6 linked regions of the Homo sapiens genome follow. The protein of the gene in region 1 purifies or fractionates together with the protein of each later gene. This does not show direct contact. Each region holds a gene or a part of one and is shown on either strand. Other genes may lie near its edges.

The links.
Region 2: the proteins of SPIN1 (region 1) and SAR1B purify together in Homo sapiens (affinity purification with mass spectrometry; one large-scale study listed by BioGRID and IntAct). This does not show direct contact.
Region 3: the proteins of SPIN1 (region 1) and PYGM purify together in Homo sapiens (affinity purification with mass spectrometry; one large-scale study listed by BioGRID and IntAct). This does not show direct contact.
Region 4: the proteins of SPIN1 (region 1) and PPIL4 purify together in Homo sapiens (affinity purification with mass spectrometry, with the first as the bait; one large-scale study listed by BioGRID). This does not show direct contact.
Region 5: the proteins of SPIN1 (region 1) and STK38L purify together in Homo sapiens (affinity purification with mass spectrometry, with the first as the bait; one large-scale study listed by BioGRID). This does not show direct contact.
Region 6: the proteins of SPIN1 (region 1) and RIOK2 purify together in Homo sapiens (affinity purification with mass spectrometry; one large-scale study listed by BioGRID and IntAct). This does not show direct contact.

Annotation. Positions count from the first base shown.
Region 1 is NC_000009.12:88,464,351-88,469,357, forward strand, and holds part of SPIN1 (spindlin-1), read left to right. Parts: intron 1-4,021; coding exon 4,022-4,255; intron 4,256-5,007. UniProt on the Homo sapiens protein: Chromatin reader that specifically recognizes and binds histone H3 both trimethylated at 'Lys-4' and 'Lys-9' (H3K4me3K9me3) and is involved in piRNA-mediated retrotransposon silencing during spermatogenesis.
Region 2 is NC_000005.10:134,629,358-134,635,085, reverse strand, and holds the start of SAR1B (small COPII coat GTPase SAR1B), read left to right. Parts: upstream 1-2,257; 5' UTR 2,258-2,358; intron 2,359-2,886; exon of another isoform or gene 2,887-3,009; intron 3,010-5,728. UniProt on the Homo sapiens protein: Small GTPase that cycles between an active GTP-bound and an inactive GDP-bound state and mainly functions in vesicle-mediated endoplasmic reticulum (ER) to Golgi transport.
Region 3 is NC_000011.10:64,745,436-64,750,326, reverse strand, and holds the end of PYGM (glycogen phosphorylase, muscle form), read left to right. Parts: intron 1-2,968; coding exon 2,969-3,103; intron 3,104-3,339; coding exon 3,340-3,406; intron 3,407-3,518; coding exon 3,519-3,668; 3' UTR 3,669-3,929; downstream 3,930-4,891. UniProt on the Homo sapiens protein: Allosteric enzyme that catalyzes the rate-limiting step in glycogen catabolism, the phosphorolytic cleavage of glycogen to produce glucose-1-phosphate, and plays a central role in maintaining cellular and organismal glucose homeostasis.
Region 4 is NC_000006.12:149,518,024-149,523,030, reverse strand, and holds part of PPIL4 (peptidyl-prolyl cis-trans isomerase-like 4), read left to right. Parts: intron 1-1,859; coding exon 1,860-1,971; intron 1,972-5,007. UniProt on the Homo sapiens protein: PPIases accelerate the folding of proteins. It catalyzes the cis-trans isomerization of proline imidic peptide bonds in oligopeptides.
Region 5 is NC_000012.12:27,316,316-27,321,322, reverse strand, and holds part of STK38L (serine/threonine-protein kinase 38-like), read right to left. Parts: intron 3,988-5,007; coding exon 3,870-3,987; intron 3,428-3,869; coding exon 3,304-3,427; intron 1,996-3,303; coding exon 1,900-1,995; intron 1-1,899. UniProt on the Homo sapiens protein: Involved in the regulation of structural processes in differentiating and mature neuronal cells.
Region 6 is NC_000005.10:97,165,593-97,170,599, forward strand, and holds part of RIOK2 (serine/threonine-protein kinase RIO2), read right to left. Parts: intron 3,261-5,007; coding exon 3,168-3,260; intron 2,400-3,167; coding exon 1,875-2,399; coding exon of another isoform or gene 1,847-1,874; exon of another isoform or gene 1,154-1,846; intron 1-1,153. UniProt on the Homo sapiens protein: Serine/threonine-protein kinase involved in the final steps of cytoplasmic maturation of the 40S ribosomal subunit. Involved in export of the 40S pre-ribosome particles (pre-40S) from the nucleus to the cytoplasm.

The sequences.
Region 1 (5,007 bases):
TCACTTACGTTTTACGTCGGAAGCAATTGCTTCAGGCAGTACATTAGAGTATAATTAAAATTATGTTTTTCTTAAGCTAAAGTTAGAGAAAAAAGTCAGTCAGCCAGAATGCATGTGATGTCACAGAGCAGTGGTTCCCAAAGCAAGGCCTGGGGACCCTTGGGTTCTCTGAAGCCCATTCAGGAGATTTGCAAGGTCAGAAATATTTTCATTTTGTTAAGCTGTAATTCGCGCTTTTCACTCTCTCTTTTTCTCAATTACACAGTGGAGTTTCCCACTATCTATTTGGAAGATTTGCATAACTTAGTGAACACAATATTTTCTTTATGAGCAGTGCATGGTACCACATCATGCATTGGTGAAAGAGCTATTCAAAGTGCAAGACTAACTACTTTTTTTTTAATTGTAAAAAAACATAGCATAAAATTTACTGTCCTAACCATTTTTAAGTGTACAGTTCAGTAGTGTGTTAAGTACATTCGCATTGTTGAAACAGATCTCCAGAACTACTTCATCTTACAAATCTGAAACTCTCTACCTATTAAACAAAACAACCTACCTTTCCTCCCATTCCCAGCCCCTGGCAACCACCATTCTACACTCTGTCTCTATGAATTTGACTATTCTAGATATCTCATAGAAGTGGAATCACACAGTATTTGTTTTGTGAGTAACTTATTTCACTTAGCATAATGTCCTCAAAGTTGGTTCATGTTGTAACGTGTGACAGGATTTCCTTTAAGGCTGAAAAGAACATTCCATTGTATCTATATACCACAGTTTGTTTATCTGTTCACCCATTAATGGACATTTGGATTGCTTCTACCTCTTGGTAGAATGTAAAATTGTACCATGTAAAATTGTGAATAGTGCTCCTGTAAACATGGATATGCAGATATTTCTTTGAGATCCTGCTTTCAGTTGTTTTGGATATAGGCACAGGAGTGGGATTGCTGGATCATATGGTAATTATAATTTTAATTTTAGTATCGTAATTCTAATTTCTTAGGTAGAACTACCATACTGTTTTCCACAGCAGTTGTACCATTTTCCAGTCCTACCTACAGTATACAAGGGTTCCAGTTCTCCATCCCTTAGTCAGCAGTTGCTATTTACTGTTTTTGTCATAGTGGTCATCCTGATGGGTGTGATACGATACCTCATTTTGTTTTGATTTGCATTTCTCTGATGATTAGTGATATTGAGCATCTTTTTATGTGCTTGTTGGCCACTTGTAAATCATCTTTGGGGAAATATCTACTCACATCCTTTGACCATTTTTTAATTAGGTTATTTTGATTTTTGTTGAGTTGTGAGAGTTCTTTATATGTTCTGGAGACATGAGTTTTAATGTAACAGTATGACAGATTTATTAATGGTTTCAGATTCTGCATTGTAACTAACCTTTAAGGAGCTAACTGTTGAATTCTGTGGTTTCATATAAGTATATCTAGAATTATCTGAAAGACGATTAGAATATTCTTTTCAGTATCATATCTTTGAGAGGCTGGATTTTATACCTGAACTGAAAGAGCAGATCATAACAGATTGAGTGCTAAAGCAGATATGAGAATCTACTTGTTCTTTTTAAAACCTAGACATTAGGAGATTTGCAAAAATGTAAAATTAAGCCACTCTTAATGTATTTTGATAGGAAATAGTTATTTTTAATTTAAAATGCATTGATATATAGGTATTTTTAAATAAATGTTTCTAGATTTGTTTTTCATTTTCTGAAGTAGTAAATATTGGTAGGCATTATCTATGTAAACAGATGCTTTTTTAGGTCTGTAGTAATTTCCATTTATGTTTTAATTTTTTTTTTAGAGACAGGATCTCGCTTTGTCACCCAGGCTGGAGTATAGTGGTGTGATCAGGGCTCACTGCTGTCTCAACACGTTGAGCTCAAACAGTCCTCCTGCCTCAGTCTCCTGAGTTGCTGGGACTACAGGCACTCACCACAGTACCCTGCTAATTTTTAACTTTTTGTAGAGATGAGATCTCATTATGTTGCCCAGGCTGGTCTCAAACTCCTGGCCTCAAGCAATCCTCCTGCCTGGGGCTCAAAGTGCTAGGATTATAGATGTGAGTCGCTGTGCCCAGCCAGTAATTTTTAAGAATGCACATGGAGTTCTGAGATCTAAGTCTGAGATCTACTGGCTTTAAGAAACTAGTGGGGTTTTTTTACTGTCATACACGGGGGGAATTCTGTGTAATTTTTTATTATTACTGCGTACTTAAAACCAGCCATACATGTTTAGGGTTTGCTGATAAAATTAAATAGCAATACATGTATCAAGAAAATCTCACTTTTTTGTTTCTTTTGATGTAACAGAAATAGAAGTTTGTTGAATGAGGAAAATAGGAGAGCTAATTGTTTGTTGTTGTTGTTTTTGTTGTTGTTAAGACAGGGCCTCACTCCCGTAGCCCAGGCTGGAGTGCAGTGGCGCCATCTTGTCTCACTGCAGCCTCGACCTCTGGGTTTAGGTGATTCACCACCTGAGCCTTCTCAGTAGCTGGGACTACAGGCCTGCACTGCCACACCTGGCTAATTTTTTGTATTTTTAGTAGAGACGGGGTTTTGTCATGTTGCCCAGGCTGGCCTCAAACTTCTGGGCTCAAGTGATTCGCCCGCCTTGGACTCCCAAAGTGCTAGGATTACAGGCGTGAGCCACCGTGCTTGTCTCTAATTGTTTGTTTGTTTGTTTGTTTGTTTTTTAAAGATAATTGTTTAAATTTGGTATAAAGACAGTTATCTAAAATTGTGGACTGGAGAAGTCTTAAAACCAATGGGATCCTTCATAGTTTTTCCAGTATTAAAAAGATGAAGGTGATAATTTTCACCACTTTTGAAAAATATTAAGGGCTAGGACCGTTAATCTATCATTTCAGAGACCTGAGCTCCCAACCACATGGGGTATCTGATTAAATCATACAAATACTGACCTGCTATGATCTAGGTATAAAACAAGAAAGGGAAGGTCTCTGCTTTCATGGGGATGTACAAGCAACTAACAAGTACACAAATAACATAAAGTGGGATAACTTTAGATCATGGTGAATGTTATTAAGAGGTAAAATTGGGTAATGTGACTGGGATTTGTGGGGCTACCTTGTTGGTCAGGAGAACTCCAAAAGGAACCGGCCTTCTGAAGGTATGGGGAAGAGCTTATCAGGCAGAGGAGAGTGTGTCCTAATGGGAGAGGAAGAAGAGCAGAGTAGAGAACGCATGAACAACAAGGAGGAAGATGGGAAACCTGAGGGCAGAGGCGTGAAGGCTTTTAGGGCTTGGGGGCTATGGTGAGCAGTTTGGTTGTTTTTCAAATTATAAAGGGAAGGCATGGGAACATTTTAGATCACACAATGTGGTATCAGTGACACAACGATTACTTTGGTTGCAGTGAAGAATAAGATTGTAGGAGCAAGAGAGTAAAAACCTATGCCTTAATAAAAAAATGGAAATAAGACTGAAGGAAAACAAACACCAATTTCTTTAAAAAAAAAAAACAAAAAAAAAACCCTCTGTGCCTTGAATAGCTTTTCTAAGTTTTAAATAAACGTTCTGTGGTTATGTAAGATGCTAATACAGGAGAAGCAAAGTGAACCGTATACAGGAACTCTACTATTTTTCCAGTTCTTCTGTAAGTCTGAAATTATCTCAAAATTTAACTGTTAAGTAAACAATAACAAACAGTATTTTATACCTTGAATGAACAATTAAAACTTTTGATTTGGGTACAGAACCAAGAGCAGATGAGTCCAGAAAAATAAAAAATCATATTTTTTTCAATTAACTGACTTGGGACAAAATACTTCTATTCTGTTGAATCCATCTCTGAGCTGGGGCCCAGTAGTTTGTCTTTGGTTTTTGTACTTTTTAAAGCTTTCCCAGATTCTGATGCTTGCTAATACGTTGCATGGACAAAATTTCAGGTGTAGCCTTCTTTAGTAAATTCAGTCTTCATAGTCGGTAATCAGCGAAACACTTTGTCAACTTTTTTTTTTTTTTTTTAATCCCCAGCGACATCTCGAATCAGCGATGCACACTTGGCAGACACAATGATTGGCAAAGCAGTGGAACATATGTTTGAGACAGAGGATGGTTCTAAAGATGAGTGGAGGGGAATGGTCTTAGCACGTGCACCTGTCATGAACACATGGTTTTACATTACCTATGAGAAAGACCCTGTCTTGTACATGTACCAACTCTTAGATGATTACAAAGAAGGCGACCTTCGCATTATGCCTGATTCCAGTAAGTATATATTGGCAACTTTTATATGTGATAATTAGAAGGGATTTGGACTTCAGTACAAGATATTTGATTGGCTCTTTTGCAGATACATTTTTATTTTTGGATATATGATTCTTTTAGTCATGCACAAACACAGCCTTTGAAATTTTTCATCCAGTTGTTATAAATGTTAGATAAGAAAATATTTGATAGTCAGTTCTGCTTGGCTTCTGTAATAAGATACAAGTTGTTTTATAATTATTAACACTACTACATATTACTTCTTGCTTTTATTTAAAAACATGATGGAATAGGGATCAGTAAAATACGTCCCCGTGTACCCTGCTCAGCTTTAACAGTTATCTCATCGCCTGTCTAGTTTTATCTGTTAGTCCCCCCAGTGCAATTATTTTGAATCTAATCCCAAGACATTGATTATTTCATCTGTAAATACTTGAACTTCAGAGCAGCGATCTTCAGCCTTTTTGTCACCGGGGACCAGTTTCATGGAAGACAGTTTTCTGTGGATTGGGGGTTGGGTGTGGATATGGTGGTTTTGGAGGCATTAGATTCCCATAAGGAACACACAACTTAGATTCTTCACATGCGTAGTTCACAATAAGGTTTGTGCTCCTGTGAGAATCTGATGCCTCTGCTGATCTGACAGGAGGCAGAGCTCAGACGGCAGTGCTCTCTTTGCCGCTGCTCACCTCCTGCTGTGCGGCGTGGCCCCAGGTGTCTGGGACTCCTGATTTAGAGAACATCAATTTCAG
Region 2 (5,728 bases), on another chromosome or scaffold:
AAGAGGAGATCCAGCAGAGCCAATGATAGGCTTTGCTGAGAATCCCTAAACAGCTCTTGATGCATTTAAAGAAGGCAATGCCAATCCATTAGAAAAGAACATTGGTGTCAAAACAGTCTTGTTTAAAGCTGAATACCTGTGTGCTCTCTTTGGCAGCACATATACTAAAACTGAAATGATACAGAGAAGATTAGCATGGCCCCTGCACAAGGATGATAGGCAAATTCATGAACTGTTCCATAGTAAAACAAACATACAAAAAGGCTGACTACGGCCAGGTGCAGTGGCTCACAACTGTAATCCTAGCACTTTGGGAGGCCAAGGCAGGTGGATTGCCTGAGCTCAGGCATTCAAGACCAGGCTGGGCAACACGGTGAAACCCCATCTCTAATAAAATACAAAAAATTAGTCGGGTGTGACCAGCCTGGGCAACACCATGAAACCCTGTCTCTACTAAAACACAAAAAATTGGCCAGGCATGGTGGACTGCGCCTGTAATCCCAGCTACTTGGGAGGTTGAGGCAGGAGAATTGCTTGAACCTGAGAGGCGGAGGTGCAGTGAGCAGAGCTCAAGCTCGCACCATTGCACTCCAGCCTGGGCGACAGAGTGAGACTCCGCCTCCAAAAAAAAAAATGCTGACTATCTGACTACACTCCTGTAATCTCAGCACTTTGGGAGGCAGAGGCCGGAGGATCGCTTAAGCCCGGGAGTTCAAGATCAGCGTGGGCAACATAATGAGACCCCTATCTCTACAAAACAATTCAAATATTAGCTGGGCCTGGTGGCACACGCCTGTGGTCCCAGCTACATGGGAGGATTCCTTGAGCCCAAGAGATTGAGGCTGCAGTGAGCTATGATAGCACCACTGGACTCCAGCCTGGGAGAAAGAGCAAGACCGTCTATATATATATATAATTTTTAAATTTATTTTTAATTTAATTAATTTATTTATTTTTTGAGACGGAGACAGAGTCTCGCTCTGTCGCCCAGGCTAGAGTGCAATGGTGCAATCTCGGCTCACTGCAACCTCCACCTCCCGGGTTCAAGCAATTCTCCTGCCTCGGCCTACCGAGTAGCTGGCGTTACAGGCACCTGCCATCATGCCTGGGTAATTTTCGTATTTTTGTAGAGATGGGGTTTCACCATGTTGGCCAGGCTGGTCTTGAACTCTAACCTCAGGTGATTCACCCACCTTGACCTCCCAAAGTGCTGAGATTACAGGTGTGAACCACCGCGCCTGGCCAAGACCGTCTATAAAACAACTGAATAACCAGCTGAATAAAAGCTGAATAACCAGCATCCAACACATTATCTGGTACGTAGCTACATTGTGTAAATCACTGGTGAATTCAATAAGCACAAATAACAAAAAAAGAAAAAAAAATGAATTCAATAAGCACGTGTACTTTGAAAATGTATTTTAGGCAGGGCGCGGTGGTGATCCCAGCACTTTGGGAGGCTGAGGCAGGTGGATCACTTATGCTAGGGAGTTTGAGACCAGCCTGGCCAACATGATGAAACCCGGTCTCTACTAAAAATACAAAAATTAGCCGGGCGCAGTGGCTCACGCCTGTAATCCTAGCACTTTGGGAGGCCGAGGCGGGCGGTTCACTTTAGGTCAAGAGTTCGAGACCAGCCTGGCCAACATGGTGAAACCCCGTCTCTACTAAAAATACAAAAATTAGCCGGGCATGGTGGTGCGCGCCTGTGCTCCCAGCTACTCAGGAGGCTGAGGTAGAAGAATCGCTTGAACCCGGGAGGCGGAGGTTACAGTGAGCTGAGATCGCGCCATTGCACTCCAGCCTGGGCGACAAAATCGAGGCTCCGTTTCAAAAAAAAAAAAAATTAGCCGGACAGTGGTGGCGGGTGCCTGTAGTCCCCGCTACTGGGGAGGCTGAGGTAGGAGAATCTCTTGAATCCAGGGGGTGGAGGCTGCAGTGAGCCGAGATCGTGCCACTGCACCCCAGCCTGGGAGACAGAGCGAGACAACGTCTCAAAAAAAAAAAATGCCAAAAGTAATTTCCCCTAGGGAGGCATGGGGTGTTCCTTTCTCGGCACGCAGGCCCCTAAAATCCCTTCGGGCGGGCGGGTGTGGGGAGACCAGGCGGCTGGGAGACCCAGGCGGTGTTAGGGGTTGCGAGCAGCCTCGCTCAACTGGGGAATTGGCGGCAAGACTGCCAGGAGGCGGAACCTAGGGCGCTCGGCGACGCGGTCCTGCGGACTGTCGCTAGTGAGGCACCCGCCGGCCCGGAAGGGGCTGATGCGAACTGGGGCCACGGCAGCCATCGCGCTTTGCAGTTCGGTCTCCTGGTGTACGGCCAACGCCAAGTAGGGGATTGCGTTCCCTCCAGTCGCAGGTGAGTGACAGCCCCTCCTTCTGGGAGGACCGGTGGGCAGCAGCTATGGATCCCCTAGAAGGCGCACTTTTAGGGCCAAGACCTACTCTGAGTCCCTGCCTGTGGCACTGCGTGAAGGGGCGCCTGTTTTTCACCCCGGGGTTAGGCGGCGCGAGGGAGGACAGGTCTCATCCATGCTCCGCGGGGCCGTCTGATAGCCCTCGAGGCAGAACACTGCTGCTGTCAGACGCTTGGTCTTTTCAGGAAAGAACGAGGTGGCTGCAGGCAAGCCCCTTCCTTCCCCTGGGCCTCAGTTTCCTTACCTGGTAAGGTGAAGGTGGCGGGTCTCACTGACAGCTGAAGAGGCTGTGACACGGCCTGGTGTTTTCAGCGCTCCCAATTAGTGTAGAGGCAAATTGAGCTTCCTTACTAGTACTGGTTAACGTTTTCCGTAGCCCAAAGTCCCAGTTAAGTGGAAAAAAGATACACTGTTGAGAAAACTGTACTGATTTTTGTTTTAATTTTTTAAATTTTTGTTGTTGTTTTGAGACAGAGTTTCCCTCTTGTCGCCCAGGCTGGAGTGAAGTGGCACGATCTCGGCTTACTGCAAGCTCCGCCTCCCGGGTTCACGCCATTCTCCTGCCTCAGCCTCCCGAGTAGCTGGGACTACAGGTGCCCGCCACCACGCACCGCTAATTTTTTTGTATTTTTTAGTAGAGATGGGGTTTCACCGTGTTAGCCAGGATGGTCTCTTATCTCCTGACCTCGTGATCCGCCTGCCTCGGCCTCCCAAAGTGCTGGGATTATAGGCGTGAGCCACCGCATCCGGTCTAACTTTTCTATTTTTAGTAGAGATGGGATTTCTCTATGTTGGCCAGTCTGGTCTCCAACTCCTGACCTCAGGTGATCTGCTCGCCTCGGCCTCCCAAAGTGCTGGGATTAAAGGCATGAGCCACCTCAGTGGGCCACTGTACTGATTTTTAAGGTGTTGAAGCTTTTCCAAGAAGATTTGTTTTAAAACAGCTAAAACTTTGACATTGTTAGCTGAAAGAACCAAATTCGTCAGCAATTTAAGGTGTTTGGTACAGTGGACAAAATGAGGTGAAGAAGTCCTTTTAACTTGAAAAATTAAACATAGTATTATTTATTTGTGTGTTCTTACATCAGCCTCTATATTACTAAGTGTCTTTGAAGACGTCCTATATTCCGTGTTAAAGTATCAGTGAAGAGTAGGTCACATTGAAACAATGAAAGAAGGAAAGAAAAGGAACATTTATTGACTACTATGAGTAAGGCACTAGCTGTCATTTTACAGATGACAAATAAATGGTGGTGCCAGTATAGCAAAGCAACATGATTATCTACTATTATACCTTTCAGTAGACTTGTGTCTGTCACCAAAATGTTTTGAACTTAAAAAATGTTAAGATAGTTCATTGGCATTTTCTGAGTTTGTAGAAAAGGAAGGTGTCTTCATTTTAGAAATGTCAGAGATGCACTGTCAGTAATTACAAAGATTAGCAGTTTAAATAAGGTATATTTTAACCTTCCTTTGACTTGCATTATTGTACTGGAATAGAAATTCAAGCAAGAATTAAGAAAAAAGATGAGTCTAACAGAAATGAAAATCAGCCTGGGCAACATAGCAAGACCCAGTCTCTACATTAAAAAAAAAAAAATTTGCTGGGTGCAGGGCCCTGGCTAGCAGGCCAGTAGTCCCAGCTACTCGCTGCTGAGATGGGGGGTTTGCTTGAAGCCAGGTCAAGACTACAGTGACCTGTGATCATGCCACTGCACTCCAGCCTGGGTGAAAGAAAAAGACATTGTTGCTAAAAAAAAAAAAAAAAAAAAAAAAAAAAGAAAAAAAAAGAAATAGAAAAGGAAATGAAAATCATTGCCACATCATTTGAAGCTTACAAGTTGGAATGCTATATTAGTATTTCTTTTCTTTTTTCTTTTTTTTTTTTTTTGAGACGGAGTCTCGCTCTATCGCCCAGGCTGGAGTGCAGTGGCTCCAGGCTGACTGCAACCTCCACCTCCAGGGTTCAAGTGATTCTCCTGCCTCAGCCTCTCAAGTAGCTAGGATTACAGGCATGCACCACCACATCCTGCTGATTTTTGTATTTTTAGTAGAGATGGGGTTTCACCATGTTGGCCAGGCTGGTCTTGAACTCCCGAACTCAAGTGATCTGTCCGGCTTGGCCTCCTAAAGTGCTTGGATTACAGGCGTGAGCCACTGTGTCCTGCTATAGGTGTATTTCTACACTTACTTTTTTTTTTTTTTTTTTTTTTGAGATAGAGTTTCGCTCTTGTTGCCCAGGCTGGAGTGCAATGGCGTGATCTCCAGCTCACTGCAACCTCTGCCTCCTGGGTTCAAGCGATTCTCCTGCCTCAGCCTCCCGAGTAGCTGGGATTACAGGCATACACCACCACACTCAGCTAATCTTGTATTTTTAGTAGAAACAAGATTTTTCCTTTTTGGTCAGGCTGGTCTCGAACTCCCAACCTCAGGTGATCCGCCCCCCTCAGCCTCCCAAAGTGCTGGGATTACAGGCGTGAGCCACCTCCCCCAGCCTTCTACACTCATTTCGTTAAGTACTCACTTGGCTGAGCATAGTATTTCTACGCTCGCTCACTTTAAATACTCATCCCAACTCGGGGTTTCACTATGTTGGCCAGGCTGGTCTCGAACTCCTGACCTCAAGTGATCTGCCTGCCTTGGCCTCCTAAAGTGCTGAGATTACAGATATGAGCCACTGTGCCCAGCCCTCACCTTGGCCACTCTTAAAAATTTTCTACTATTTATATTTGTCATGGTTTTATCCTTCGTTTTCTTTTTCTTTTTTTTCTTTTTTTTTTTTTTGAGACAGAATGTTGCCCTGTTGCCTAGGCTGGAGTGCAGTGCCACGATCTTGGCTCACTGCAACCTCCGTCTCCCGGGTTCAAGCAATTCTCATACCTCAGCTTCCTGAGTAGATGGAACTACAGGTGCCTACCACCACACCCAGCTAATTGTTTTTTTTTGTTTGTTTGTTTGTTTGTTTGTTTTTTTGAGATGGAGTCTTGCTCTGTCGCCCAGGCTGGAGTGCAGTGGCGCGATCTTGGCTCACTGCAACCTCTGCCTCCCAGGTTCAAGCGATTCTCCTGCCTCAGCCTCCTGAGTAGCTGGGATTACAGGTGCACGCCACCATGCCCAGCTAATTTTTGTATTTTTAGTAGAGAAGGTGTTTTACCATGTTAGTCAGGCTGGTCTTGAACTCCTGACCTCGTGATCTGCCCGCCTCGGCCTCCCAAAGTGCTGGGATTACAGGGGTGAGCCACCGTGCCTGGCCTATTTTTGTATTTTTTCTTTTGTAGAGACGGGGTCTTCCCATGTTGCCCAGTCTGGTCT
Region 3 (4,891 bases), on another chromosome or scaffold:
GAGAGTGGTGCTGGGAGCAAGCGGCACGTCTGGAAAGACTGGTCCAGGCCCAGCAAGGTCTTGGTCATGGCCAGCAGGATTCTGGGAAACTTTAGAGGGCGCTTACAGCAAATAAGGTTAATGAAATTGGAAAAGAAAGAAGTAATATAGAACTGAAGGAAAAGGAAGAGAATATTATATCAACCCTAAGAGATAATATTGTTTGGGAAATGGAAGTAAAAAAATCCTTGCTCTACGCCGGGTGCGGTGGCTCACACCTGTAATCCCAGCACTTTGGGAGGCCAAGGCGGGCGGATCACAAGGTCAAGAGATCCAGACCATCCTGGCTAACACGGTGAAACCCCATCTCTACTAAAAATACAAAAAATTAGCCGGGCGTGTTGGCAGGCGCCTGTAGTCCCAGCTGATCGGGAGGCTGAGGCAGGAGAATGGTGTGAATCCAGGAGGCGGAGCTTGCAGTGAGCCGAGATCGCGCCACTGCGCTCCAGCCTGGGTAACAGAGTGAGACTCTGCCTCAAAAAAAAAAAAAAAAATCCTTGCTCCCTGAAAGCCATGGGCAAAAGGGAAATATGGGCACAGTAGTTACAAGGGGCCTATGGTCAGAAACAGTTCTTCAGAGAAGACATTATCCTGGCATTACATTAAAAAATTTTATTTTATTTTATTTTAATGTATTTTTTTTTTTGAGACGGAGTCTCGCTCTGTCACCCAGGCTGGAGTGCAGTGGCGCGATCTTGGCTCACTGCAAGCTCCGCCTCCTGGGTTCACACCATTCTCCTGCCTCTACCTCCCGAGTAGCTGGGACTACAGGCACCTGCTGCCACGCCTGGCTAATTTTTTGCATTTTTAGTAGAGACGGGGTTTCACCATGTTAGCCAGGATGGTCTCGATCTGCTGACCTCGTGATCTGCCTGCCTCGGCCTCCCAAAGTGCTGGGATTACAGGCGTGAGCCACTGCGCCCGGCCTTTTGTTTTGTTTTGAGATGGAGTCTTGCTCTGTCACCCAGGCCGCAGTGCAATGGCACGATCTTGGCTCACCGCAACCTCCACCGCCCGGGTACAAGCGATTCTCCTGCCTCAGCCTCCTGAGTAGCTGGGATTACAGATACCCACCACCACGCCCAGCTAATTTTTGTATTTTTAGTAGAGACGGGGTTTCATCATTTTGGCCAGGATGGTCTCTATCTCCTGACCTCAGGTGATCCACCCTCCTCGGCCTCCCAAGTGCTGGGCTTACAGGGGTGAGCCACTGCGCCTGGCCTATTTATTTTTATGTTTTTGAGACAGAGTCACTCTGTCACCTAGGCTGGAGTGCAATGGCATGATTTTGGCTCACTGCAACCTCCGCCTCCCAGGTTCAAGTGATTCTCTCACCTCAGCCTCCCGAGTAGCTGGGATTACAGGCACCCACCATCACGCCCAGGTAATTTTTGTATTTTTGTAGAGATGGGGTTTCATCATGTTGGCCAGGCTGGTCTTGAACTCCTGACCTCAAGTAATCCACCCGCCTCGGCCTCCCAAAGTGCTGGGTTTACAGGCGTGAGCCACCGCGCCCTGCTTGAATCCTGATATCTTAGCATTGGAGAGAGATTTTCCATGTTATTAGTCTTCAAAAATATTTTAAATGTTTGTATAACATTCCATCCTATGAGCATGTCACAACTTATTTAATCAATTCCATGTGGCTGGACACTAAGGTTAATTTCCGGTTTGTTAAATATTACTGTGATGAGCAACCTTTTAATGTCTACGTCCACATCTGATGATTTCCTTAAGATAATTATCAGAAGGGTGATATTTCTGAGTTAAAAAGTATGAGTTCTTAAGGCTCTTGATACAGATTGCCAAACTGCTTTCCAGAAAGTTTCTCCCAGTTTACACTCCCACAACAGCTTCCCAGAGTTGGCATTAAACACTGAAAGAAGTGTCTCCTGTGAGGCTTCACTAGAAAGCTGGCTGTCCCATGGGCAGGAGGGAGCTGTGAGATGTTGTGAGCATGGTCCCGCATGCTCAGAACGAGGCCTGGAAGAACCCTCTGGCTGCAGGATGGAGACAGTGCTGGAGGGGGCAGGTGGGGGACCACTGTGGGGGCTGACACCATAATGCAGGGAGAGTTGCCTGAGAGTCGCACAAGGGACTAGAGAGTCGCACGAGGGATTAGAGATTTTGTGGGGAGCGCTGGTTTCTGGTTGGAACGGTTAGGTTTTGAGACTGGCCTGTGGAGCGCTTTGAGCCGTGGTGGGGGCGCTGAGGGTCAGCTGAAGGGTTATCTTTTTTTTTTTTTTTGAGATGGAGTCTTGCTCTGTTGCCCAGGCTGGAGTGCAATGGCATGATCTCGGTTCACTGCAACCTCCGCCTCCCGGGTTCAAGTGATTCTTCCACCTCAGCCTCCCGAGGAGCTGGGATTACAGGCACACGACACCATGCCCGGCTACTTTTTGTATTTTTGTAGAGACTGGGTTTCACCATGTTGGCCAGGTTGGTCTTGAACTCCTGACCTCCTCAGATGATCCGCCCACCTCGGCCTCCCAAAGTGCTGGGATTACAGGCGTGAGCCACCATGCCTGGCCCAGTTGAAGGGTTGTACCTGTTAGCTGCTCTTGCTGCCCCAGGGCAAGGCCGGATATGGACTTGGGCTACTGGAGGAGAAAAGCCATTTTGGAGCAAACAAACTGGTTAAGAGACAGCAGTGGCGTGTGGGAGAAAAGAGCTTGTTTGGGGGCCTTGGCTCTAACACTTAGCTTTCTGTATCCTCCGGGCCTCAGTTTCTTCATTCACAAAGGAGGGATGAAAAGCTGAGCAGAGAAGGGGAGTTGCAGGGAGGCCCTGCAGGGGCGATGTGGCAGCCCTGGGGAGCAGCAGGCTGGACCTGGGTTTTGACCCTGGGGCATGGGACTTCTCAGCTTTTCTCTGGAAGAGGAGCCAGGAACCCCTTTCCGGGGAGCTGACCACAGCTCTGTCCTGGCAGGTACAATGCCCAGGAGTACTACGATCGCATTCCTGAGCTTCGGCAGGTCATTGAGCAGCTGAGCAGTGGCTTCTTCTCCCCCAAACAGCCCGACCTGTTCAAGGACATTGTCAATATGCTCATGCACCATGACCGGTGAGCTGGTTGGCCCGGGAATCACTCAGGTGGGGCCGCAGGGCAGATCGAGGCTCAGGTGTGTGGTGGGGAAGCCGGACGCGGGTCCTGGTAGTTGGAGCCAGGCGCCTTTGGAAGCAGCATGACCCTCTAGGTCCCCGGCTGTCCACTGGGACAGGGCAGGCTTGGCCCTTGACCTCATAGAACTTATCCTAGCCCCCTAAAGGAATAGCACATGCCTATCCTTTCCCCTCCAGGTTTAAAGTCTTCGCAGATTATGAAGACTACATTAAATGCCAGGAGAAAGTCAGCGCCTTGTACAAGGTGAGGGGTCCTGGGCCAGGGGTTGGCAGGGCTTTGGTGGCCCTGGTTGGGATGAGGCAGAAGGTGGAGATCCTGCCAGCAGAGTGAACCAGAGCTTCCCTTTGACCTGCAGAACCCAAGAGAGTGGACGCGGATGGTGATCCGGAACATAGCCACCTCTGGCAAGTTCTCCAGTGACCGCACCATTGCCCAGTATGCCCGGGAGATCTGGGGTGTGGAGCCTTCCCGCCAGCGCCTGCCAGCCCCGGATGAGGCCATCTGAGCCTCCAGACCAGACCCCAAACCAGCCCTTGAGTCTGTCACACTCTCTTGGGCCAGCCCCAGCACCTCATGCAGAGGGTGGGGTACTGGAGTTAGATCTCTAAGCCCCTCCTGGAACCCTCATTTTCCCCACTCTCAATGTCCCAGTGTCCAGCGTGACTAAGGACACGGGCCCCCTTCCGTCCTCGGGCTCCCGGTCCCCTCCTATTTATGGGGTCTGACCAACTGCACCCACTCCCTAATAAATTCATTCTCCTTGGGAGCCTCCTTACTCCTCTTTGTTGGGAAATATTTTTAGCTCTTGGCGGGCTCAACAGCAGCCGCGCAGTCACCCCCTTATCCTCCACCCTCGGCAGGTGCGTCCCACGGCGGGACGGTGATGGGAGGTGGAGGGGGCGACCCGTGGGGGCGGGGCCTAGGCCTCTCCAGCCCCTTTCCTGGCGTCACCCTCCACGCCTCTCTTCCCAGTGCCGTGTCCATACTAGGTCAGCGGCCAGCCTCGCTGGCCGGGGGCGGGGCGTCTGCCTGGGTGGGGCCCACCGGGGCTGGGAGCCGGGACTTGGGCTGAGGCTTCCCGGACCACGGAGGATCCGCGCTGTCGAGGGCAGGACCCAGGAGGGGGAGGAAGCAGAGGATGCTCGGCGCCTTCTTGGCTCCGCCCTTAGCCCCGCCCTACTGCGGCGTTTAAGGGTCTCTTAGCAGGTGGCTACACTGGATCCAAAGTCGGGGGAGTGTTACGGCAGGGAACACTCGCAGACCGCCTAGTCTAGGCCCTCATTATGGGGAAACTGAGGAACAGAAAGGTCCTGTTTCTAAGTCTTACATTACCAAGACTGAGGTGCGGGGGCGGTCCTGGATCCCCCGCCCCAAGGCTGGGAGGGGCACGCCTCGGAAGGGAGGTTTGGGGTCGGTGGTTTCACAGTGAGTGTGTCTGAAGCCAAATGGTCGGAAACCGTTACCCGCTCTCCTAGGCCCGGCTAGTGGGGACCCCAACCGCCTGCGGCTGCCCCTCCCAAGTTCCTCCCTGTTGGCCAGGCATCCAGGTCTCCAGTCTCCGAGCTGCGGAGAACCCACCGCCACATGCGGCTGCCCCTTTCCATTCGACCCTGTGGGGAGCCAGGCTTCCGGGGCCCCGTTCCTCCTGTGTGAACTGGGCCCCCCGCCCCCATTCCCAGACATCAAGGCCGCGTCTCCAGATAGCCACGATTTCATTCCTCGCTCCCC
Region 4 (5,007 bases), on another chromosome or scaffold:
GTTGTGAAATTGTTTCCCATTCAATTCTGTAATTTGCTTTTGGTGTATTGTATTACATTGTTTCGTTTTTCATACATTGGATTGCCACGTGACAGCACCATTTATTTAAAAGGTTGTCCTGGCCAGGCGTGGTGGCTCACGCCTGTAATCCCAGCACTTTGGGAGGCCGAGGTGGGTGGATCACGAGGTCAAGAGATCGAGACCATCCTGGCCAACATGGTGAAACCCCGTCTCTAGTAAAAATACAAAAATTAGCTGGGCATGGTGGTGCGTGCCTGTAGTCCCAACTACTCGGGAGACTGAGGCAGGAGAATTGCTTGAACTCGGGAGGCAGAGGTTGCAGTGAGCCAGCATCGCACCACTGCACTCCAACCTGGCGACAGAGCAAGACTCCGTCTCAAAAAAATAATACATAAATAAAAAGTTGTCCTTTTTCTCTGAGGTCTCTACTGATGAAAAAAATAATAAAAAAAGTTGTCCTGCCCCACAGCTCTGTAGTACCACTTTTGTTATAAATCGGTATCCATATATGTATAGAGTCTGTTTCTAGACGCTATACTGTTGCACTGATCTATTTGTCTATTCATATACCACTGTTACATTGTGTTAATCACTATAGGTTTATAAATGTCTTGATAACTGTGAGTCTTCCAACTTTGTTGTTTTTGAAGATTGTCATAGCTGTTTTTGACTTTTGAATATTTATTTTTGAATCAGTTTCTCAATTTTGAAGAGATTTATTAACTATTATTTAGGTGTAAGTAAATTGAGTATTTGCAAATACTATCCTCCTGAAAAAGTGATCTTCAGAGCTTTCTCTTTGGGGATATAGCATGGTGATAGAATTATACCTGCCTGAAAATAATCAGTCAGATTCATGAAACGTACACTGATTGCCTACGTTTTAGATACCATGCCATATGATGTTCTAAATGATGTAGTTACAAAGACGAATCAAGCTTTGTCTATATCTTCATGGATTTTATAATTCATTTAATTATTGACATGTAATAAATATGATTATAACTATTTTATCTGCTTCTCTTTGGATTATCTCTAGTAAGAATAAGTTTCCAGGAATGTAAAAGAAAATTGGTCAGTACTGAGTTGAAATATGTAACTGTCAGTGTCAGAAACAGGGATTTAGAATTGTGAAGTTACTGACAGGAAGGATTCTTGTGTAGCACAGAGCTTGGTATTACAGTCTCACAGTTCATTATCTAAAACCCTTGAGAATAACTAGGCTTCCTAATTCAGAATTTTTCAGAATTCAGAAAGGTAATACTGTATATATGCATACACACATACACATTACATCTGTGATTATGTAATACCTTTCTGGGTCAGCATTCCATAATCTGTCACAAAAGTATTTCTGCAGTGAAACAAATGAATATTCATACTAAGTGGATAAAAAAAGGTCATAACCTACCATTAGGTTTGGTGTTACTGCCAAATTAATTTTAACAACAAACTTAGGAACACAACTTTCACTTTCCAGGATGTTTTTGAATTTTGAGTAAAAAGGATTGTGAACCTGTATAATACAGTCAGTAAGTGTATATTTATCTGTTCACTGCAGTTGGACTGTCTCTCTAAAATCCTGGCTCTGACCCTTGCCAACAACTTCTATACTTCTCTAAACTTCTGTTTTCTCATTAAGAAAATGGATAGTACCTCATGGGGTTGTTACCAGAGGTATTTGAGGTAATAGATACAAAGCATTTAACAGCATCGGGTGTGTAATAAGTATTCAAACATTAATTTTTGTAACAACAAACTTTTTGTATTTTCAGTATTCTAGCTACAGAAATCTTTTCCATAAAGATTTATGCTTGAGTTTTTATAATTATTATCAGGAAGAAGATTGTGAGAAAGCATTCTTCAAAATGGACAATGTGCTTATAGATGACAGAAGAATACATGTGGATTTTAGCCAGTCGGTTGCAAAGGTTAAATGGAAAGGAAAAGGTATGATGGTTTATCTTTTGTTTTTGTTCTGCTTTTTTTTTTTTTTTGAGATGGAGTCTCGCTCTGTTGCCCAGGCTGGAGTGCAGTGGCACGATCTTGGTTCACTGCAACCTGTGTCTCCCAGGTTCAAGCCATTCTCATGCCTCAGCCTCCCAAGCAGCTGGGATTACAAGCATGTGCCACCATGCCCAGCTAATTTTTGTATTTTTAGTAGAGATGGGGTTTCACCACGTTGGCCAGGCTGGTCTCGAACTCCTGACCTCAGGTAATCCACCGCCTTGGCCTCTCAAAGTGCTGGGATTACAGGCGTGAGCCACTGCGCCCGGCCTTGTTTTTGTTATGCTTTTCATGCTTGTATGAGCCTTTTATTGAGTGCTGTTAATTAGGAGAAATATTAATTGATGTAACTCCTGCCATTTGTAATTTTACAAACCTGCTATCTAGAATCTGAGGTAGAGTGTGTGTGTGTGTGTGTGTGCACACACATGCATGTGTGCACCTGTGCGTGTATTTTAAACTGATGAAAAATTATATTTTCTATGTTTGACTATATTATAAATTACTAATAATTACCCACTGCAGACATGATATGTTTCCAAAGTAATTATTTTGACTTTATGGTGTTTTGAGTCTTTTAGGTGCACAACTTAAATTTTTTTTGTTTGTTTTAGTTGTCATATGATGCAAAATAGAAAAGGTCCATGGAAAGGTAGATAAAAGTCTCATTCATTCCTGCTCCTCATCTATCTAATTTCTCTTCCAGGGTAACCATTATCACCTATTGGTACTAACTTTCCCCTACATTTTTTGAATACATATGTGCATATATATATATATGATTTTCTCCTTTTAAAAAGGAAAATATAAAACAAAGGATGCAGGCTATACATACTGTTTTTGTACCTTGCATTTTTTAATTAACAGTGTATCTAAGAGATCAGTTCATATCAGTATATAAAATGAACCAGCCCTGTTAATGGGTTTTCTAAATTTTTACTCTTCCATGTCCATAGCAGTATGTTCCACCTTTGTACATATTACATTTCCCACATACACATACATATATGTCAAATACATTGCTCGTAGCATGTCAGTCTTAAAAGTTGGGTCTCTCATATGTTGAAATAATACGAGTTTTTGGTTTTTGATGCAGTGTTTTTAACAGGTTTCACTTTGATAGTTACTCACATGTAATGCTAAATTTTACTGGGAATTTCAGGGTTACTTTCTTTTTCTATAACACTTATTTCCCATGCTTTTAATGAACTGTTTTTTTTGTCTGTTTTTAGTAAGAAAGAAAAACACTATTTAGTTGTGAATTGCTGAATTGTTTGGTGGATTCTGTTACCTTATGGGAGTTCAGAGAAGGAAGAAATTATTAATGTGACTAAAGTAGGCAAGGAATGTTGAGTGGAAGCTGTGATCTCTGTGATAAAGGAGAGGGTGACTTGGATTGGAGTTCCATGTACTATTAGTTTCTCCTGTGAAACCTTACCTCCTCCTAGAACACATGGCTAGTTTTTGACAGTGCTGTTTGAGTGATTTGTGAAACCTAAATTGAAGCACTAAGATTTTTTTCCACATATGAAAATTACAACTTTGTGAATGAAAGATTCCAGTAAGTATATTCAAAGTGTTGGTGAGCTGCTGGCCTGATGCAGTGTAGTTCTGGCCAGTAGTAATGCCAGGTGGCTCTTATGTAGAGCTCTGCTTCCAAAGAGCTAGTTTAATTGTATCATTTGGGAAGTGTATGAAATAAATATTATAATTCCTCATTATAGATATGGAATTTGAGGCATAATCTTGAGAAGTGATTTACCTAGAGTCACATACACAGATGATTTAGACAGACCCTACATTTGGTTTGTTTTTTACCCTCTCAATCCTGTCTTCTTCTCAACCCATCCACCCATTGAATAAATACTACTACTTTCTTGTGACTTTTAAATAAATTTCTTCATGTTTTTTCCTAAGATAAAATGTCACATAGGAGGGAGAAGCTTTGGTTTTGTATATGCCATCATAAACATACAGTTTATTATTCTCAGTTAATTTTGAGATAATTATATATGTTATTGATTCACATTTATAAACTTAATGTGTATAATGTGCCATTCACAGCACTAAGAACTTTCCTTTATAGTCTGATGATTCCAGCAACTCTGTGAAATGTTGGTATTATTTTCAGTTTATAAATGAAGATAATGTAAATAAAGATAATGAATTGCAGAGAAGTGGTGTCTTACCTAGGACCTCCCACTACAGTCAAGAACCTCTTACATTAATCTGGTGCCCTTTCTGTTATACGGTAACTGCTTCATCCATAGTGAGACTTTTAATGGCAGGCAGATGGCAAATAATTTTTCAATGATAAATGATGGCTGTTTGTTACCATTACCAGTTATTTTAACTCTTGCAGTAGACTGTTTCACATTTATGGGAAACATTGCTGGCCACTTTTGTTTCTGGAGTCTCTGGAATTGCCAAATAGATTGATCTTGTCTTTTTTGCTTACCCTATGGGTCCCCCTTTAAAACCCTGACAATCAAGGTACACATAGGATTCTCAGTCAAAACCTCTGTCTGTACCTCCAGTTTGTTTTACTTCTACATTTAATCTAGGACCCTTCTGTAGGAAGCCTTTCTACAAACAGCATTTCCTAGTGGTGTGGTTGAGGGATAGGAAAGGCAGGGCAGTCAACAGGTCTGGGACATGGATGCGAATTGAATTCTCATCTGGTAGGAGACTTGAAAATTGAATTCTCATCTGATAGGAGACTAGAGTTGAGAGTAGAGAGGCTGCATTGAATGCTCTTCCTTTCTAGCCCTACCAAGCTAGTTAGGATGTAGCAGTAGGTCCTATTTTCCTGAGGGGATTTTTGGCACTTGGGAGGAATGAAGTTGCCCCTAAGTTAGAATTTCAAAGTAGAGACAGTTTGTCTTTGGTGCTATTACCCACCCTCTCCTCTCACAGCTGTTTGGTGATCTTCTGCACATCCTGCCCTCTTCTATTTGCCTGATGCTCTGTTGCCATTTA
Region 5 (5,007 bases), on another chromosome or scaffold:
CTTATCATGCTAAAAAGTTTAGCTATACAAATGGTTAAAAGAAGCTATCAGTTTTTATTGCTTCTGTTTTTTCAACAAATATTTATTGGATTTATTAGGTGCTAAGTTTACCAAATTATTTAAAACCATATATATTTTTTACCAGAATTATTCCAACTCATTTATACTTAGTATACTACTTTAATAAACCTAGTTTAGAGGAAAGAACCCTGGAGGCCTGAGAGCTAACCTTCCTTGTTATTAACTAGCAGTATGACCTTAGGCAGCCAAATCCCTGCTCCATGACTGTTCCCTCATTATAAAACCAAAAGAACTGGCAGTCTCTAAGCATCCTTCCCACTGTAAAAGGGAGGGTATTCTAGTTCTATTCAATTAAGTTATGTGTGTATAGTATTATACAGCATAGTGGTTAAGAGTTAGGCCTCCACCAGGAGAATGGCGTGAACCCGGGAGGTGGAGCTTGCAGTGAGCCGAGATCACGCCACTGCACTCCAGCCTGGGCGACAGAGTGAGACTCCATCTCAAAAAAAAAAAAAAAAAAATTACTAGCTGCAGCACTATAGTCACATTACTTAACTTCTCTGTGCCTTAGTTTCCTCACTTGTAAGACAGGGATAATAACAGTTCCTATTTTATAGAGCTTATATGAGGATAAGATGAGAAACGCAAGTAAAGTACTTAAAACAGTGCTGGACACAATAAATGATTTTTAAAAATTAGCTATTATTACAACAGGCAGAGTGGGCTAGGCGCCTGTAATCCCAGCACTTTGGGAGGCCGAGGCAGGTGGATCGCTTGAGCTCAGGAGTTCAAGACCAGCCTGGGCAATTGGGCAACATGGTGAAACCCCATCTCTACAAAAAAAAAAAAAAAAAAAAAATCAACAAAATTAGCTGGGTGTGGTGGCACATGCCTATAGTTCCAGCTACTTGCGGGGATGAGGTGGGGGGATCATTTGAGGCCTGGAGGTCGAGGCTGCGGTGAGCCATGATCATGCCACAGCACTCCAGCCTGGGCGACAGAGTGAGACCCTGTCTCAAAAAAATAAGTAATAATAATAGGCAGAGTGCCTAGCACACAGCAGGTTCACCAGTGAAGAGCTGTACCAAGGAAATGACACATAAGCTATCTTGGAAGATGCAAAGGAGCCAGCTAGGCAGGGTAGGGGTAGAGGCAGCAGGGAGAGGGCATTTCAGTCAGGATGGATAGCAAATAGCAAAACTTAGAGGTGGGAAGAGGAGTAGGAGAGGCCATCCAAGACGCAACTCCTGCAGATGAGGCAATCGCCATATCCTGCAGTCCTAAGAAAGCAGTGAAGGCTTCTTAACTGTATTCCAAGTGCAAAAGGCCACAGGAAAGTGGCATGGCCAGATTTATGCTTCTAAACTGTTGCTGTGTGGAGAACAGATCAGAACTACCAATGGTAGTTTGGCCATAAACTGAAAAAAGCCAATGCTCACAATTAACAACTGTAAGCAAATTCTTAAAAGTTACTTGTATTATTTAATGCCCAACCACCGTTTAAAGAGGGACTGTACCTTATTATAAATTAATTAAGGAGACAGTATGTGGTATATTACAGCAAGGACAAAAATGAGGGGTCACTGTGTGAAATGTAAATACATGTTTCATGTGCTAACAGCCTTCACTGTGAATATGAATATAAGAATTTAAACAGCTTCCCAATGTTCTTCCCTGAAAGTGGATGTTAGCCTAAAATGAGTCATCAAGCTGTAGCCACAATAGTCCCACTCACTTACATAATCCAGAAAACACTGCACTTAATGACATTATATGTTACTTTTGTATTTAATCTAGCAGAATCAGAGGTAAATTAATTGCCAACTCTAGAAATTTGTTTTTACTCAGACCTTTCCCATTCAAAGCCTAGGAACATACCTTATGTGCTCCCAGTCGACACCTTCAAAAAAGGGATGACCTTTTATTTCTTCTACTCCACTATTTCCAATTCTGTTTTCAGAATCAATACAAAATCTACAACATGGAAACAGAGAAATTATCATACACAAGTTACATCTAAAGTATTCTAGCTGCATTACTTCAAATATTTCTTTTTTAAAGAAATATAATGTTTTTCTTTTATTGATGTTAACTATGTTTATTGTAGGAAATGTGGAAGAAAATAAAAATCATCTGTAAGCGCACTGTTTAGAGATAACTACTGTAAATATGCTAATCTTTTACAATATTAAAAATACTGTGTTGCTACCATAGTTACTATGTTAGGTCTGCTTTTTTTCACTTGATATACTGAGAAAATTTGCCAAAGTCATTAAATATTTTTCAATAAATTTTTTTTTCGTTTGTTTGTGAGACGGAGTCTCGCTCTGTCACACAGGCTGGAGTGCAGTGGCGTGATCTCAGCTCACTGCAAGCTCCACCTCCCGGGTTCATGTCATTCTCCTGCCTCAGCCTCCCAAGTAGCTGGGACTACAGGCGCCCGCCACCTCGCCCGGCTAATTTTTTGTATTTTTAGTAGAGACGGGGTTTCACCATGTTAGCCAGGATGGTTTTGATTTCCTGACCTTGTGATCTGCCCAACTCGGCCTCCCAGAGTGTTGGGATTCCAGGCATGAGCTGCTGTGCCCAGCCAATAAATTTGTTTTCTAAAATTTACATATAGAGGTATTATAGACAGTCTACTATTGAGCCAGTCCACTACTGTTGAACATTTAAATAGTTTTCAATTTTCACTATTAAATACCATGAAAATCATAGTGTACCTAAATCTTTATACGTATCTGATTATCTGCATAAGCGAAATCCCTAGAAGTAGAACTTCTGGGTCAAAGGTCATACATAGTTTAGGGATTTTAAAAAAATAATATGCTGCCAACTGGCTATTCCCACAAGTTGTCCCAATTTATATTCCTTCCAGCCATTCACAGCAGTACCAAAACACTTCATATTAGTTGAGGAACACATGGAATTTTTTGCTTAGAAGATTTTACATATATACTTTTCATGACAGGAATCTGCTATTAACATTTTCCTTTTTCTCTTTAATGGAATCAGGTCATTGCATTCTAACAGAAGTGACCTTTTGCTTTTATATATATCAGTAACAGAAGCAATACAAGACTTCCTCCCTCTTTTTAATTCCTACGTTTTTTTCTGCATACTTCCTTTTAAGAGTTTACATTTTTAAAAACACCTTTATTGATCTCTTTGACTGTATACATCAGTGGTATCCCCTCTTCCCCCACAAAAGTGAAATGAGTCTTTTAGGTTCTTAGGAAGTTTTAAGACACTATGAACTCCTCTAGGAATTTAACCACTAACCTGAGAATTAAGTCCTTGGCTTTCTCAGATATAGGTACCTCTGGAGGAAATACCAGAGTTTCTTTCCAGTTCATCACTTTTCTGTACGTTTCTTGAGGTGTTTCAGAGCAGAAAGGTGGATATCCTATGTATCAAATAAATCAAAAATGTTTCATCAGCTTTGTGAGCAGTGAAGTTTATACCCACCAAACATGTGCGACAAGAAACCAAACAACCCTGAGTGCTCTATTTAACAGTCAAAAATGCCACCATTCATCAATTTACAATCACGTTGCTAATAAAGTCAATAAAATAAAGGATTGAAAGCACTGCCTCCCCTTTTACCTGAAAAGCTATGTAGATAACCACTTTTATACGTGGGAGTTTGGGTTAAATACCCACCTTCCTGAAACAGGATCCGTGGGGAGCTCACTGGTATTGATCAGTATGTATTTAACATTGGGGGAACATCAGAATTAAGCTTAAAAGACTTCAAATATTTTAGTCAATGATATCTGTAATATGTTCAAACAATGGCACTCAAGGAAATGTATATATTTTGTACATAAATGAATGATAAAACATACCTATTAGCATTTCATACATAATCACTCCCAAAGACCACCAGTCACACAATTTGTTGTAACCAGTCTGCATGAATACTTCTGGAGCAATGTAATCTGGTGTCCCAACTGTGGAATATGCCTACAAAGGAGCAACTCGTCAAACCAGCATTCTTAACATTTAAAAAATATCTATCTGAGGATGGCTTACTACTGGAAAAAGCAATATATAGAGGAGTTAAATTTTCACTTGTATTTATTTTGCATGTTTATCATGTGCAAGGCTTAGTGGTAGGTAGTGAGTCAGATAATATGTTATAGACTACTATTTTTCAGTCTATTTACTTTCCTGAGGGAATGCTGAATTAGTTTTCCTTTCATCACTTAGTTGAACAAATATTTATAGAGTGTCCATATGTGCCAGGCATTTTATAAGAATATATCATTTCTGCCCCCACAAGAAGCTCAGTTAAGTTATTTATATATATAGCCTTCAGTCTATTTCAAAAAGAATGAAAAAGTTGAACCTAGAAGACCTGGCTTCCCCACTCACTACTAATGTGTTCTTGGGCAAATTATTCAATTTCTCTGAGGCTCAGCTTCTGCTTACATAAAACTAGAATAATAATACCTGCCCTAATAGAGTTGATATGAAGATGAAACAATAAACGGCATGTGTTTTGTAAACTACAAACTACAAAAATAAGCATGAGGTATTTTCATTATAAATGTAATTCCAGGGTACTGCTTATCCTTTAGGAAGCTATGCAGTTTTTAATTCTTAATTCATATAAAATCTTACAAAAATGATTTCTACAAGGCAGTAATTCTCAACCAGGGGTAGTACTCTTGGGGCCATGGCAAAATGTAGGACCACAGATTTTGTCATCTCAGTGACATAACTGGCATTTACAGGGCAGGGGATCCAGGTGCTAAAGAAATTTCCTGCCCCAAACACTGAGTCCTCTCTACTTCTCCCTTGGGAAACACTCGATCTAAGGCTTGGCAACTACTGGCCATGAGAATAATAAAACACACACCTGAGTAATCACCCATGAATATTTTGTAAATAGGGGGGTACAGAATTCCCCCACCATAATTTTGAGCAGTATTCAGTTTTTCCCCTTTAAAAATAGGGAATATTGCAATTATTCTCAATTGC
Region 6 (5,007 bases), on another chromosome or scaffold:
AGAGACTAATGTTTTTCACATGGCTCAAAGTTTCAATATATGCAATGTATAAAAACTCGGACGATATTAACTCCTAACAGTTAATATTTTTCAGCAACATCTGCTGTTCTGCTTTTACTTTGAATGGAAGTTTTGCCCAGCATGTATCCAGAGTGGGAACAAAATTATTGTTCCCATTCTGAGTTTAAAAGACCATTTAATCCTATATAGATTTTCTTCTATCACTGTGATGGTTAATTTTATATGTTAACTTGACTGGGCCTCAGGGTGCCATATATTTGGTTAAACATTAACTTGGGTGTGTCTTTGAGGGCGTTTCTGAATCAATAAACTGAGTATAGCAGATTGCCCTCCCCAGTGTGGGTGGACCTCATCCAATCCATTGAAGGCCTGATGAGAACAAAAAGGCAAAGTAAGAGAGAACTGTCTTTGAACTGGGACATGGGTCCTCTCCTTTCTTTGGATGTGGACTGGAACTTATGCTATTGTCTCTTCTGGTTCTTAGCTCTTTGGATTTGGACTGGAACTGTACCATGGGCTCTCCTTGGTCTCTAGCTTGTTGACTACAGATCCTGGGACTTCTCAGCCTCCATAACCCCATGGGCTAATTCCTTAAAATAAATCTCCTATTTATTCTGTTTCTTTGAAGAATCCAGTCTAATACAATCACTTACTCAAAATCCTGAGCCTCTGTCACCCCTCTTTTCCTTTTAAGCTTCTGATTTAATTTTCCAAGTTTATTATTTAAATGGCAGTAGCCCTGTGACACAGATACACAGCTATATGAAAAAGGAACAAAATTCTCATGTTTTGCTTCAGGAATAAAACTTTAAAGATAAAGGTAGGCTTAAGATATAAGCCCAAACATGTACTGAAAAATGTTTAATAAATGTATTGCTGAACTAATTTTAATTGTCATATTACTATTTTGAAATAAATAAAACCAATATTTCATTTAACTACAATTTGATTCTGAATAAGCAATCCCAAATCCAAAAATTAAGTTTTAGAACTTTTCCTAATCTAAGCTGAGCCTGATTAATATTTACAAAAAAAAATTATTAAAAGAAAACATAATATCATTAGATAATTTTAACTACACATGAACAAAGGATAGAAGGCTCAAGGTACTAGAGAAAATTCACTGCAGATGTTTCATATAGAAAGTACATTTATTGCATGTTTTAATATTTACATGCCTTTACATAACTCAAACACACATCAGATGTGTAATTAGGAAAATATATGAGGAATAACTCATCCATCTAAAACCTGATCAATGTATCCAGAGACCTGCAATAATTTTAAAATCATCAGTTTGTATATATATATATATTTTTGAGACGGAGTTTTTTGCTCGTCACCCAGGCTGGAGTGCAGTGGTACGATCTTTGGCTTACTGCAACCTCTGCCTCCCAGGTTCAAGTGATTCTCCTGCCTCAGTCTCCCAAGTAGCTGGGATTACAAGCACAGGCCACCATGCCCGGTTAATTTTTATATTTTTAGTAGAGACAGGGTTTTGCCATGTTGGCCTGGCTGGTCTCAAACTCCTGACCTCAGGTGATTTGCCTGCCTTGGCCTCCCAGAAGTGCTGAGATTACAGGCATGAGCGAGCCACTGTGCCCAGCCATCAGTTTGTATTTTAAGGCAGAATTACTTGAAATTTAGTCAATAGGCTGCCTAGAATCAGGTCAATTGAAAAGGAAGCTATTTTGAGTTTTTAACAACAAAAAATTATTTGGCTTTCATTTTATACATCAAGGTGGCAGAATACAATTTTGTCACATCATTTGAAAAAAACATTCTTTTACTAGAATCTAACAAAGTATCAGTCTCAAGACTAAAGTTAAAAAGCAATCGACAGAAGTCTATACCTGAAAGGCCTGAATTCTCTATTTAATGACGACAAGGCAATTAGATGAGGGCATTCATCTTCATACTCGTCAGAGCCAGCAGGGACTCCTCCTTGAACTCTCTGACCATCTTGCCTGTTGTAATTTTCAGTTCTGTTTTTCTCCTCAGAAAATTCAGTTACAGAGTTGTTTTCAACAACCTGCCCTTTTATTTCTTCTAAAGCTTGATTGAATTCAGTCATTTCAAAACTCCGTGCATCAGCACTCTCTTCTGATAAACTGTCTTCCTTTATTTGTTCAGGGTCTCCAGATGATCTGCAATAGCAGCCCTCTGATTCTTCTAGACAGTTCCGTTCACTTTCATTTTCTGACCCGTAAACCTCTGCTTTTTCTGCCACTTCTCCATCTGAAAATGAGAATTCAGATCCCTCTTTTGTTTCAATATTTTTATCATCTGGACCTAATGGATGAAGCAGTTCATCATCTGCCTGCATTTCCTTTGTGTAGCCACTGGCAGAAACCTCCACATCAAGAGTGTCTTCTCTCCTAGAAAAAAAAGGCGTCAAGCATAGAAAGAGAGAAAAAATGTTTATCTAAGAGGAGCAAATATCTACTACTCTGATAAATTATGATTCAAGTGAGTTTAATAGCTTATATGTTAAAAATAAATTTTCCTTCCCTAAAATGTAATATTTAAATGACACAGGTAAACAAATATGAAAGGTATATGCTGGCTGTCATTTTAAGAATAAAATAACTGAAAAGCAACAATATAAATAAAAAGGTTATAAAAACCTCAGCTTATGTTTATTAACTTTGTAAATTAACTTTCAAAGGGGGCTAAGGATTTCCTTCAGATTATGTGACTCATCCCAGATCAGAAAATATCTTAAGTGTATAAAATAAATATGAGAAAACTGAGCTTTGAGAATGCACATGATAGTTATGTTTTGAGAATCAATTAAAGATACCTCCTGGTCCTTGATAAAGGAAAAACACAAATTTCAATGAATGTTTGGTGTTATTCCTTATGAATGAGTTACTCAAATAGCATCCAAAATAGAATAAAAGTTCTTGAATTTATAAGAATCTAGATATGTCCGCTTCCTAAAATTCAGTAACAGTGCCTTAATGGACCAAATGCAGGTATTTTCAAGTTTTTAAGTTTCAGTTATGTACTACAGAGCAATGACATCTAACAGTGATTACGTGTCAAAATTTGGAAAGTTTTTTAGATGAAAATGTTAATTTTTAGAAATACACAGACCAGATATTTAAACTGTTCTATTATGTAAAGCAATGGGGAGTACAAACCTGATATCCTTAAAAGTTGGAAAAAGCTCACTTTCGTAGCTGAAACGTTTCATAAAGAAATCTTTAATGCATTTAACATCTCTGTCAAAATACCTGCAAAAGCAAGAATCATTTATGATATAGTCTTTATTGCTCCTCTTTTTCCTTATTAGCCAATGACAATATACTTATTGGTTAATGGTATTGCTCCTCCTTACACAAGGAGATAAAAGATGTTACACAAAAGAAAAAAGATACAAATGAGTTAACCAGTGTGTTTGAAAAACTAAAATCCAAGGAAATCTCAAGGATATAAGCTGTCAATGCCATGCAGTTCCTACGGTTAGGAAAGTCAAGGTTTTGTCATAGTTACTGGTATATAGTTAGATACACTAGGGAAAGATGAATGTGAACCCCAGGAAATAAGATAATGGGCCTATGGTTTGGGGATAGGTTTCCACTTATTCTGTTCGTCCTGAGTCTGGCTATGCTTCTTATCAGCAACACTCACTAGAACCCCTAGCCAACTGAAAGATCTGACGATAAAAAGATATTAATATTAAACAGTTAAGTTTGGAGACTACTGAATTATGTTTATGTATCTTTGTTATCCATTAGCCGATTTGCAATAACACCCAAAGGGATAAATAATGCTACAGCCTATAAAAATAATCTGAGGACATGTTAATCTGGACCAAAAGTAGAACAATATCTGAATATCAGGCTGCCTTTTTGGGCCACCACAAAGCAGCAAAAATGGATTCAATTCTCTAGAAGATTTCCAGACAAGGGAGAATTAAGGACAGGATAATGTGCAATTGACTCTCTTTGAGAAAGATGAAGTTTGGAAATAGGAAGATAATGCCTCTCCTCTTTGCTCACAGGGTACTCTGGGAAAAATACTAATACATTTTAAAAAGACTATTTTATATATGTTTACATCTCCCTACGAGACAGTAACATTTTCTAAAGCATATATAGGGGTTATTTATATCTCAATCTCTAGCAATTAGCACAGCTCCTTGGCCCCAGAACTGGTTCATAAAAATTGAAATTAAATCACAATGTCTCTCCATAGAACGATGCAGCCTAAACCTAGAATGTCATAATCTGTCACACTCTGGAGGCTCCTAGATGTTCCTTTACTGTGTGACTATGTTACTCCTTATTAATAAAAATCATGATTAGTCATCATCCAAAGAGTACTGACCACCCCAGTGCCAGGCATTAATCTTTTAGTATTATTTTGTTGAAAACGTTTTAAAAATTTATTTTCAAATGACATTTCTTTCTGTAGCATAAGTATAGACATTTTCTACTGGAAACCAGGATGAAGAGACGCTTCACTTAACAAAACTACTTCAAGCTCAATCTCTGGAAGAATTAATATACTCTATTATATAAGTGATACTAGTTGTTAGTTTAGGAAAAAAGTTTCTCATAAAGCTTGGAACAGAAAGAAAAAAAAATCCTTAGTTACACTCAATTGAATCATAAACCTCAAGCAAATAAAGGATAAGGTCCTGTTTCATGACTTGGCTGGCTTGGTTTAAATAAGTAATGTGAAGAATATGATTATCGCAGTATATCATGATTCTGCACTGTGTCAGAGATAAAGTTTTATGTGATTTTTTTTCTAATAAATAAAGCTAAAAGTGACAAGAGGTAATTATCACTGGTTTGACAACTGAGTCCAGTCCAAAACCACAACTTTTATTCAGATCATCGAGATTACTGAGTTATACTTGGTGAATCTCTCTTGGAGGCAATCATGGAACAGCAAGAAAAAGGGAAAGACAAAAGTGGTTCTAGAGTTCCCCACTACACTCCCTACTTTTACCTGTTTTAACAATTGGTCTTC